Linked DNA regions of Homo sapiens: region 1 is reported to be linked to region 2. Evidence: microRNA targets listed by miRTarBase, many of them from high-throughput screens and not tested one by one. Region 2 holds a microRNA gene; the other region holds the end of a gene's coding sequence.
What was found. Region 2 holds the annotated microRNA hsa-miR-490-3p (CAACCUGGAGGACUCCAUGCUG, at 2,792-2,813, shown strand). A microRNA usually pairs through its seed, bases 2 to 8, with sites in the 3' UTR of a target mRNA and lowers its output. Matches are read on the target gene's strand: a 7mer-m8 pairs with bases 2 to 8, a 7mer-A1 pairs with bases 2 to 7 and ends in A, and an 8mer does both.

Region 1 (5,394 bases), not on the chromosome of region 2:
TGTCTGAAGCCTCTCTTTGACAGTGATAGACAATTTCCTTGATATTCTTAATTGCTTATTTTTCCATTGACTTATAAATGAGAAAAATATAATAAAAATGGGAAGCTATCAACAAATTCTGCTGGATATTGATTATAATCACAGTGACTAAGTTAGGCATCCATTTTAAAATCCAGAGTTACTATGTATTTGTTTCTGTATGCTGCCTATCTGAAGTAAATTTCTGTCTCTACCGCTTGCTTCTACTGTAACAGCCTCATGCCATTTCCCTTCCTGTTTCCTTTCACAACCCCCAGTATATTTTATAAAATAATAACTTTTACTAAATACTGCTGTAAATTTAACATGTATTATGACAAATGCATGTAACAGTTCTAAAACAAAGAATTACCTCCCTTTAACATCTGAGAAAATTGAGTTCAGAAAGGATAGTAATTGGCCCACAAAAATTCTGGACACTTAGTACACAAAGGGAAATTAACAAATCATGGTGCATATACAATGGGGTCCTGAAAACAATAAGAATGATGATGGGAAAATTAGGCTTATAAAACCCTTAGCATAAAACGTCATTCTCAAATGAGTCAAACATGGAAAGATAGTCTTAAAATTGTTAACAATGGTTGCCTCTGCAAATAGACCATATATAAGCTTCTTTCTGAAGAAAATGGTGGATACAGGAATACCAGTGGCACACCTTGGGAATAGTAAAAAAGTAACTGACAGGGCACAGTGGCTCACGCCTGTAATCCCAGCACTTTGGGAGGTCGAGGCAGGCAGATCACCTGAGGTCAAGAGTTCAAGACCAGCCTGGCCAACACGGCAAAAGCACATCTCTACTAAATATACAAAAATTAGCTGAGCGTGGTGGCGTGTGCCTGTAATCCCAGCTATTTGGGAGGCTGAGGCAGGAGAATCGCTTGAACCTGGGAGACGGAGGTTGCAGTGAGCCGAGATCATGCCACTGCACTACAGCCTGGGCGACAGAGTGAGCCTCCATCTCAAAAAAGAAAAAAAAAAAAAGAACTGATAGAAGCAAACATCATTTAAATATTCTTTATTTTTTTGCATTATGAAATAGTTTATACAGAAAGATACAGAGAGTAAGAACTGACTCATATACTCACAGCCAGCTTTATCAAATTTTAAGAATTGGCTATACAGTATTTGCTTATTTTTAAAAGAAATGAATAATTAAAGGTATTTTCATTTGCATCCTTTCCCCAATCTCAGTTGTCTTTCTCCCTGCAGGTCACCACTGTTCTGAATCTGATGATTATTTTATTAATTCTTTTAGATCCTTTTTATATAGTATTTAGCCATGACAAAAATACATAACACTAATTTGCATGTTTTGAAATTGTACGTTATACTGTATTATATAAAATAGTCTGTAGTTCAATTTCATTAATACTATTTTTGAGGTTTACCCATGTTGACAGAAATATCTCTAGTTATTCATTTTAGTTTGCATTCTATCTTGTATTTAACCTAATGGTTAGATTGCTTTCAACTTCTCATTCTCACAGTTCTGCAATGGACCATCATATGTATCTCCTTGAAACACGAGGAGAGACTATGTAGAGGTTTAAACATGGAATTGCTGGGTCAAAGATTATTCACATCTTCAACTTTACTAGACATTGCCAAATTATGCTAAACACAACTACTTCCTATAGCACCGTATGAGTGTTCCTATTGCTCCACATCTTTCCAGTAATTGGCACTCTAATGCTTTTGCCAATGTGATGATTTTGAACTAGTTCAATGTGATTTTATTTTGCATTTCCCTTACTACTAGTGAATCCCCTTACTACTAGTAATACCCCCAAATCCAATCTTTCTCTCTACTGGTATGAACCATCATCATATGCAGTTTCTACAAATAGATTCGAAATTTTTCTTGCTGCTCTTAAGAATTTATACCTCATAAATTTCAGAACAAACCTGTGAAGCTAAAGGGCAAAACAAAAACAAAAACAACAAACAAAAAAAACCACTGAAACATTTTGGCTGGAATTGCAGTAAATTTGATAATTAGGAAGAATCGCCAACTTTATTATATTGAGTCTCTGCAGTCTAGGCTATATAATGCTCCTTGATTTAGTTTCTTGTTACTCTTCCGTTTTCTGCGTTTAGAAAATCTACTGTTTTATATTTAAGTATTAATTACATGTCTCCACCTCTGGAATTTTACTCCATGAGAATGTGGCCTTTGTATTGCTCACTGTCATTTCCTCATACCTAAAACAGTGTCTGACAAACAGTAATTACTCAATATTAACAGAATGAATGCCTATATTATTTGTGTATCTATCTGTTTTCTTCCCTTAATCCCCTTTTGATTTCAATTTTGCAACCACTGGATAAATAATTTTAAAACTTTACATTTTTCTATAGTATGGAACACTTTACATGCCTTCTAAATTACCCGAATTTAACCATACAATTAGCTGGGGGTAGTGCTTTTTTTTTTTTTTTTTTTTTTTTTTTGAGATGGAGTCTTGCTGTATTGCCCAGGCTGGGGTGCAGTAGCACGATCTCAGCTCACTGCAACCTCTGTCTCCTGGGTTCAAGCAATTCTCTTGCCTCAGCCTCCTGAGTAGCTGGGATTACAGGCGTGCGCCACCACACCTGGCTAACTGTTATATTTTTAGTAGAGATGGGGTTTCACCATGTTAGGCAGGCTGGTCTCGAACTCCTGACCTCATAATCCACCCACCTCGGCCTCCCAAAGTGCTGGGATTACAGGAATGAGCTACTGCACCTGGCCAGGGTGTGGTGCCTATTTAAGGGGATCACATGAATTTCTATGTTTATTGATTTTTTTTGGTTAATTGTGACCATTTCTATTCCTTCCTTGATTTAAATGTAGGTTCTGCATTCTTCCCAGTGAATTCTATTTTTCTTAATTGGCTTATCCAATTCATTATCTGTAGAAACTTCCTAAAACTGGCTGTCAGTGTTATAGTTCCACTACCTGACTTCATAACAACTACTAAGCTACAGTACAAAGACTGCCATTTATGTTCTAACATTTTTAGATTTTCCAAATTCTGAACTGGTGTTTTGCAGGAATGCTCCACTTTGTCCAATAAGGAATCTTGTTTTGTGAGGAGTAGATGAGTTAATATATGTAGAGTATGTAAGACAGTGCCTGATGTGTAGTGGGCACTCAATACATGTTAGCTATTATCATTTATTGAATATCTGCTATATTTGACAGACTATATGAAGTATTTTACATGCAAATTTCTCATTTAATATGCATCAATCTACAACAGACACTATTTCACTTAATACTTACATTTCTACAGTACAGTATCCTATATTATTCCTATTTTAAGATTTAAAGAAAACCCTGAGGTTTAGATAAGCAAATTGCTCAAAGTCACGCAATGCCATAGTAGTGTTGGAGCTATGATTTTCCAGAATCTAAGCTCTTAGTCCTGGGAAGTGCCTAGTGCCCAAAGAAGAAGACTGGAATAAAATAAGGCTGAATGGTGTGTAAGAACCAAATAACAAAAGCCTTGCAGACAATTTTAAAGGCTGTGAATATTAGTCTAAGAACAATAACAAGCAAAAAAAAAAAAAAAGTTTTAACTGGAGATAGTAACATGTGTTTTCTTTTCTCTTCTTTTCTTTTTATTTTGAGACGGAGTTGCAGCCTTGTTGCCCAGGTTGGAATGCAATGGCGCCATCTCGGCTCACTGCAACCTCTGCCTCCTGGGTTCAAGCAATGCTCCTGCCTCAGCCTCCAGAGTAGCTGGGATTACAAGTGTGCACCACCACGCCCGGCTAATTTTGTATTTTTAGTAGAGATGGAGTTTCGCCATGTTAGTCTGGCTGGTCTCAAACTCCTGACCTTGGGTGATCTGCCTGCCTTGGCCTCCCAAAGCGCTGCGATTACAGGCATGAGCCATCACACCCAGCCCATGTGTGTTTTCTTATTCTTTAAAAAGAACACTTTGAGGCTGGGCGTGGTGGCTCATGCCTGTAATCCCAGCACTTTGGGAGGCCGAGACAGACAGATCACTTGAGATCAGGAGTTCAAGACCAGCCTGGCCAACATGGCAAAACCCCATCTCTACTAAAAAATACAAAAATTAGCCAGGCATGGTGGTGCATGTCTATAGTCCCAGCTACTCGGGAGGCTGATGCATGAGAATTGCTTGAACCCTGGAGGCAGAGGCTGGGAGTCAGAGGTTGCAGTGAGCTGAGATCGTCCCACTGTACTCCAGCCTGGGCAACACAGCAAGACATTGTCTCAAAAAGAAAAAAAAAGAAAAAAAAGATCCGTTTGAGTGCATTGTGGGAAATGGATTTAAAGGTAGCAAAAATAAATACAGGAAAACCTGTTTGAAAGCTATATTAGTAATCAGAGTGAGATGAATCAGACCAAGGTGACAACATTAAAGATAAAAAACAGTATAAATTCTAGAAACATTTAGGACTCAGGATCTATAGGACTTGGTGATTGACTGGGTTGGGTGGTGACAGTGACTCCCCAATGTGAATTCTCTGGTGATGAGCAAGGTGTGCATGCTGCCTGAAGGTTTTTTTGCATTCCTTACATTCATAGGGTCTCTCTCCAGTATGAATTCTCTGATGTTGGGCAAGGGATCCACAGTAACTAAAAGCCTTTCCACAAACAGTACATTCATAAGGTTTCTCTCCAGTATGAACTCGCTGATGTTGAGTAAGGGACGAGTCATTGCTAAAAGCCTTCCCACATTCAATACATTCATAGGGTTTCTCTCCAGTATGAACTCTTTGATGCTGAGCAAGGTAGGCAATCTGGCTGAATGCTTTCCTACATTCCTGACACTTATAAGGTTTTTCTCCAGTATGAATTCTCTGATGTTGAGCAAGGTGTGAATTCTGGCTAAAGGCCTTCCCACATTCCTTACATTCATAGGGTCTCTCTCCAGTATGTATTCTCTGATGTACAGTAAGGTATGCACGAAGGCTAAATGCTTTCCCACAGACATTACATTCATAGGGTTTCTCTCCTGTATGAACTCTCTGGTGTTGAGCAATGGATGATCTGTTGCTAAATGCTTTCCCACATTCGATACATTCATAGGGTTTCTCTCCCGTGTGAACTCTCTGATGTTGAGCAAGGTAGGCAAACTGGCTGAAGGCTTTTCGACATACCTTACATTCGTAAGGTTTTTCTCCAGTATGAACTCGCAGATGTTGAACTAGGTGTGCATTCTGACTGAAGGCTTTCCTACATTCCTTACATTCATAGGGTTTTTCTCCAGTATGAATCCTCTGATGTTGAACAAGATTTGATCTCTGGCTGAAGGCTTTTCCACACTCTATACATTTATAGGGTTTCTCTCCAGTATGAATTCTTTGATGAAGAGTAAGGGATGAACTCTGGCTGAA
Region 2 (5,394 bases):
AGCAGCAGCATCTGATGGATTTGATCACAGGCTTACTTCAGTTTGGTTCTCCCAGAAACAAGGCTCACTTCTACTTGTGAAGTGCGAGGAGCCATCTAGGAAGGAGGGGATGTGAAAAGGGAAGAAGAGGCTGCCAGTAAAAAGGTTTCTATTAAGCTGGGCATCTCAGAGGAGACTGGAGCTTACACACATGAGGCATTCTAAGAAATGGCACAGAATTGCTCGTCTCATAATTATCTTGCCAACTGCTAAACAATCTTTTTTTTAAAAAAAGAATTGTTATTTAAAGCCTGCTCCTAGAGGCTGTAAACACCCGAGGCATTTTTGGTTTTCCGTATGTGCAGGGTGAGCAGAGTGGCCTTCCTAGGTTTCTGAAAAAGCCCCCAGACACAGAGAAGCAGACAGTGGCATATAGACGTCAGCAGGGGAACACTGAAAGATCTGAATGATATGGGTAGGGTACCAAGAATGTGAGCTACACACCTCTATTCATAACAGAATTTTGAGCTCCAATCAAGGCATGGATATATTCTTATTTATAAATTACATAGAAATAATTTTTCCATGATTATGTATATCATAGTACATACACAAAAAACCTCTTTTAGAGAATGATATAACAGTAATTGAGAACGGAGTTTCTAATACTTTCTTCCTGCAAGCCAGTAGATTGTCCTGTACAGCCCGGGGAGTGTGGGCACCCCCAAAGTGGAAACGAGTGCCCTGGGAAAGGAAAAATTCCATTTCCAAGATCCAGGCATGTGAGAATTACGTGAAATTAAATATGTGGACTTGCGGTTTTTGGTTCTTGGAAAAATAGAAAGGTATAGTGGGTTGCATGCAGTTCTAGCTGCATTCCAGCTAGAAACAGATTGAGACAGTTCAGATTCACAGGCACTTGCAGGGCAAGTTTTCAATGTCACTGTGGCTTTACCACGTAGGCAAATTTGAAAATAGACACACTAAATATTGACTACAGGAAAAGAAAAATGTGTATTTATTCATACAAAACACATTTATTTAGCATCTATAATGTGCTGTGCCCTGACCTATAGTGACCCAAACAGATTAGCAGATCTCACCCGATCTTGTAGTGCAGTGATTTGAATAGCAATGATCTTTGGACCCTAAGCAACCCAGTTTGGCCATTCCCTGATGTCATTTTTTTCCCCCATTTCCATTGTTATTTTTTGAGAACATACAGACGCTTTTTGATCCATTTGTTGTAAGAACCTAGCCTCTTGATCAGTTGCATTTACAAAATAACAACATTGATAATTTCATAAATGTGTAAGATTTACAGCTTACAAAGAACTTGCACACACATCTCATGCATAACTCACAAAACCTCTTAATTCTTTCCCAATAATACAGGGGAATCATGGACTCAGGGGCTGACCTCCAAAGACGCTGTTGGTGGTAAATTGTTAGAGCCCCGAGATGTGACTTAAATTTAGGTTTTCTGACAGAGGTGTGCTGCTCGTCTCTATGCTAATCCATTACACAGCCAGACAGGAAGAACTGTCAGTAGATTCTGATCAATTTCTCTTTCTATAAAAAAAAATGATAAGCTTAGTTAAATTGTATTAGATAAGTGAAGGGTTGTTTATAACAGTCCAGCCTCCCCTTAGCTTCTTCTATGGCTTTCATTAGGCTCCATCAAAGCCTACTCTCAAAACAAAATATAAAAATAATTGTTAACTACTAACATTGATTCTGTGATCTTCCTTTTAAACTCATCTATCTATCTATCGATCTATCTATCCATCCATCCATCCATCCATCCATCCATCCATCCATCCATCTATCCACCTAGCTATCCTTCTATGTTTGCAGTCAGTTGCTAGTTATTAAGATAATCAGAATTGCTTTCAGAATTAATAATTGGTATAAATTTCAGAAGAGTTTGAATTTAGGTGGCAAATTCATAATAAGTGAGAAGGTAAGCTATAGCATCCTCTGATAATGTGTGCAGTTTACTTTTTATCTGTCTCTTTCTAATTGAAAACTAACAAATATAGCCCCAATTAAATGCACGTAAAAATTAGAAGCTGGTGGGATAGGGTATTAAACACAATCCTAGATGACTCTTATGAACTCATACCATAAGCAGCCACTTTCTTTCTCGAGCAAACTATAGTGAGAATGAAGCATCTTAGATTGAGAAGGGATTAGGACGACCCTGAATGGAATGGGCAAATCATAAACAGCTAGGCCCTTAGAATTTGGTTGCAGTCCCAAACCCAGGTCAGTTTTTAAACATGACTATCAGCTAGATATCCTTTCTCCACCATACAATAATAGATAACAACCTTAATAAGACGTGTAGACATTAAACTTTGAAATTCCACAGTAAGATGTAAATATTTGCTCAATCAAGTACAATTTAATATGTTTGTTATACAGCAACTGCAGAGCACAGAATTTTGTACTCTTTGGATGTTTATGATAAGGTACACATTATTTGCAAGTTTTTGCTTGTTTCCTTGTTCAGTTTTTCATTATCAAACAAACAAAGCTTCTCAGCCTGGGATTAACCTGGAGTCTGGAAAGTATACATTATGGCCAGCAACTTTAAACAATAGGCCAGAGATGGGAAATGAATGAATGAAATTCTGACACAGAAGACAAACAACAGAAACTCATTTGGGCTAGTGTAGGTGTAGGTTTTTTATTCTTCAACCAACGGTGGTGAAGAGGATCTCCCTTCACTTTATGGAGGCCTTGCTGGTTTGGAAAGTTCATTGTTCGACACCATGGATCTCCAGGTGGGTCAAGTTTAGAGATGCACCAACCTGGAGGACTCCATGCTGTTGAGCTGTTCACAAGCAGCGGACACTTCCAACTCCATCTTCCCAAGAACTAAATGGGTGTCTTCTATAGTGTATGTGCAAATCTCCTTCAAAAGGAAGTCTTACTCTTCCTGCTTTCAAAAATGGGAACAAAATTCACACCTCAGCATCCAAGTATTTGTTATTTTTGTGGATATTGTTAGAGCTGGTGTCACAATGTAAACTACTAGGATGAAAATAAGTATTAAAAGATTTCTCTTTTAAAAAGCTGATTAGAAATGATAGAAGTATAAGTAAAATATTTGTTTGTGAATTTTAATTATGTACAGAATGAATTTTAGTAACAGGCAAATCTAGCATTTAAGACTGCAATTTTCTAAAATTTAAATTTATTGGATTTCTAAAGTTGGTGTATCAGCATATTATTCTTAAATAATACGCCTTCTGTTTTACAATATTTCTCATTTTTATTTATATCTTTAATTGGCTAAATGTTTTATAATGTTAATTAATAATGCTGAAACAGTCATTCTTGTGATGTTTTAATAACTCTACTAGTGTTTTAACAGTAATATGGCCTTGGGGTTTGGTTTAAAGTAGGTGTTGTACATGATATTAAGGAGATGACCTTTATCAAATGTTTTATTTTTCTTGTATTGGAATTATCATATATATATATTTTCTTATTCAGACTATGTGAAGTGACATGTTATTTGTTTTCCTGATACTAATACATTTCTAAATCCAATGGCTTTAATTGTCATGATATGTTACTCTTTTAATGTACTATTGAATTCCATTTGCTACCATTTTACTAAAGCATTTTGCATCTACATTTGCAAGTGAAACTGAGTTAAAAGTTTGTTTTTTTAATTTTTGAGTTATCTTTGGCTGAAATTTATTTCATAATCACTTGATTATATAAAACCAATTGGTAGCTTCCCCTTCATCCTTATACTGTTGAAAATTTTACATAGAACGATGATCAATTCTCTAAATGTTTGAATGGCCCTTCCTGGAAAACTTCTGGTAAAAAGCTCAAATCATTTTTTACAACAGTTTTAAAAATTATTATAACATTTTTCTAAGTCACTTGCCTATTCACATTTTCTATATCTCTACTCATTAATTTTGTTAAATTATAGATGGCTACCATTATCTATTTAAGAAAAATGCTTGTAGTATTTATCAAATAATTGTGCATATGATTCTGTTAAAATAATTATTCTCCAAATTTATCTTTCCTTTCTTTTTCCCAATATTAAATGTTTTTCTCATGCTTTTTTGCCAGAGTTTTGTGGCTTTTGATTTTTATAATTTATTACTTATCTTACTTTTGTAGTTACTTCTTTTTAATTCTGTAGAGGTTTTTGTTTCCCTTTTTAAAATAATTTCTTGAGTTTAAAGCTTAGTTTCTTCTGCATTATAAAATTTTGATACTTCTTCTTTAATATTGGGAACATTTATAGCTATGAATTTGTTTCTGACAACTGCTTTAGTCTCATCTAAATGTTTAAAATATAGCCTGGTTAACATTAAGGGAGCACAGGCTTGCTGCTTTTCAGTCTTTTGGCTAAGACCAGGTGAAAAAGAGCACGGGTTTAGAATCAAGGAGCTTAGGTTTGAATTCTGACAGTTTCACACATGTTGTGAGAGGGACTTTAACTCACTACACTTCTGTATTTGTAATTTAGAGTGAGTATATTTACATTATAGTGCTTTGTAAGATTAAATGAGATATGTTTATAAGTGTACAGTACTGTGATGATAGCAAAATCAAATGTTCAACACAAATATTAATATTGGTTGAAAATTATAGTTTGGGTTGTTCTTTTTTGTATAATAATTTTAATTTTTAAAATCTGAAGTGCTAGATGTTTGTTGCTTTTGTTGTTATTTCAAATTGTCTTACAAATTTCTAATTTTATTGCATTTTGCCCCAATAATATGGTCTTAGAATGTCTATATTTTGGGAATTTTCTAAGCTTTTCAGTTTTTGAGTTGTTTGGATAACTGAAGATCATTTTCTTTGTTGAAAAGGGCCAAGATATACACACACATGCACACAAAATGCACTCGTTTTTTATTTGTATTTATTTCCCATATTCATTATATTATTCATTTATTTTTGTTCTTATTTTTTAAAATAAATCTACCTGATTTGTAGCTGTATTTGCATTTTTTGCACCTATCATGTTTGAATCAAATTCTGTTGGTTTTTAAACATATTTTGAATTTTATACATAACTAAACTATTTTTCTCTGTTCTGTTCAGTACACTTTGCTTGTAATTCTAGTTTATCTGAAACTAATATGGCTGCTTCCTATTTCTTCTGTTTTAGTTTGCCTAAAAGAATTTGTCATCATTTTAAACTATCTGTGCCATTTTATTCAGATCAATCCCCTTTAAGTATTTTATAATTAGAATTTATTTATTTATTTATTTTGATCTTCCAGTCTCTGCTTTTAAATTGGTAGTTTAATTCTCTCATATTTTCTCTTCTCTTTTTTTGTGGTTTTATTATTTTTACTTCCCTTATGTTTCAATATTTTCTCCCACATATTTTTCAACTTTCTCAAAATATTGATTGCGAGAGTATCT

Region 1: miRTarBase lists ZNF570 as a target of hsa-miR-490-3p. The part of its 3' UTR that is shown has no 7-base or 8-base seed match.

What each region holds. Positions count from the first base shown.
Region 1 is chr19:37,484,301-37,489,694 of GRCh38, reverse strand. It overlaps ZNF570 (zinc finger protein 570), which reads right to left. Exons shown (of 5, transcript NM_144694.5): 5 at 1,043-5,394. The coding sequence ends at 4,462. Among named protein-coding and RNA genes, the nearest start is that of ZNF570, 18 kb to the right of the region's middle.
Region 2 is chr7:136,900,451-136,905,844 of GRCh38, forward strand. It overlaps MIR490 (microRNA 490), which reads left to right and starts at 2,717; the gene lies at 2,717-2,844. The region is part of intron 2 of CHRM2 (cholinergic receptor muscarinic 2); the gene reads left to right. It overlaps LOC349160 (a long non-coding RNA gene), which reads right to left. Exons shown (of 4, transcript NR_046103.1): 3 at 1,400-1,551.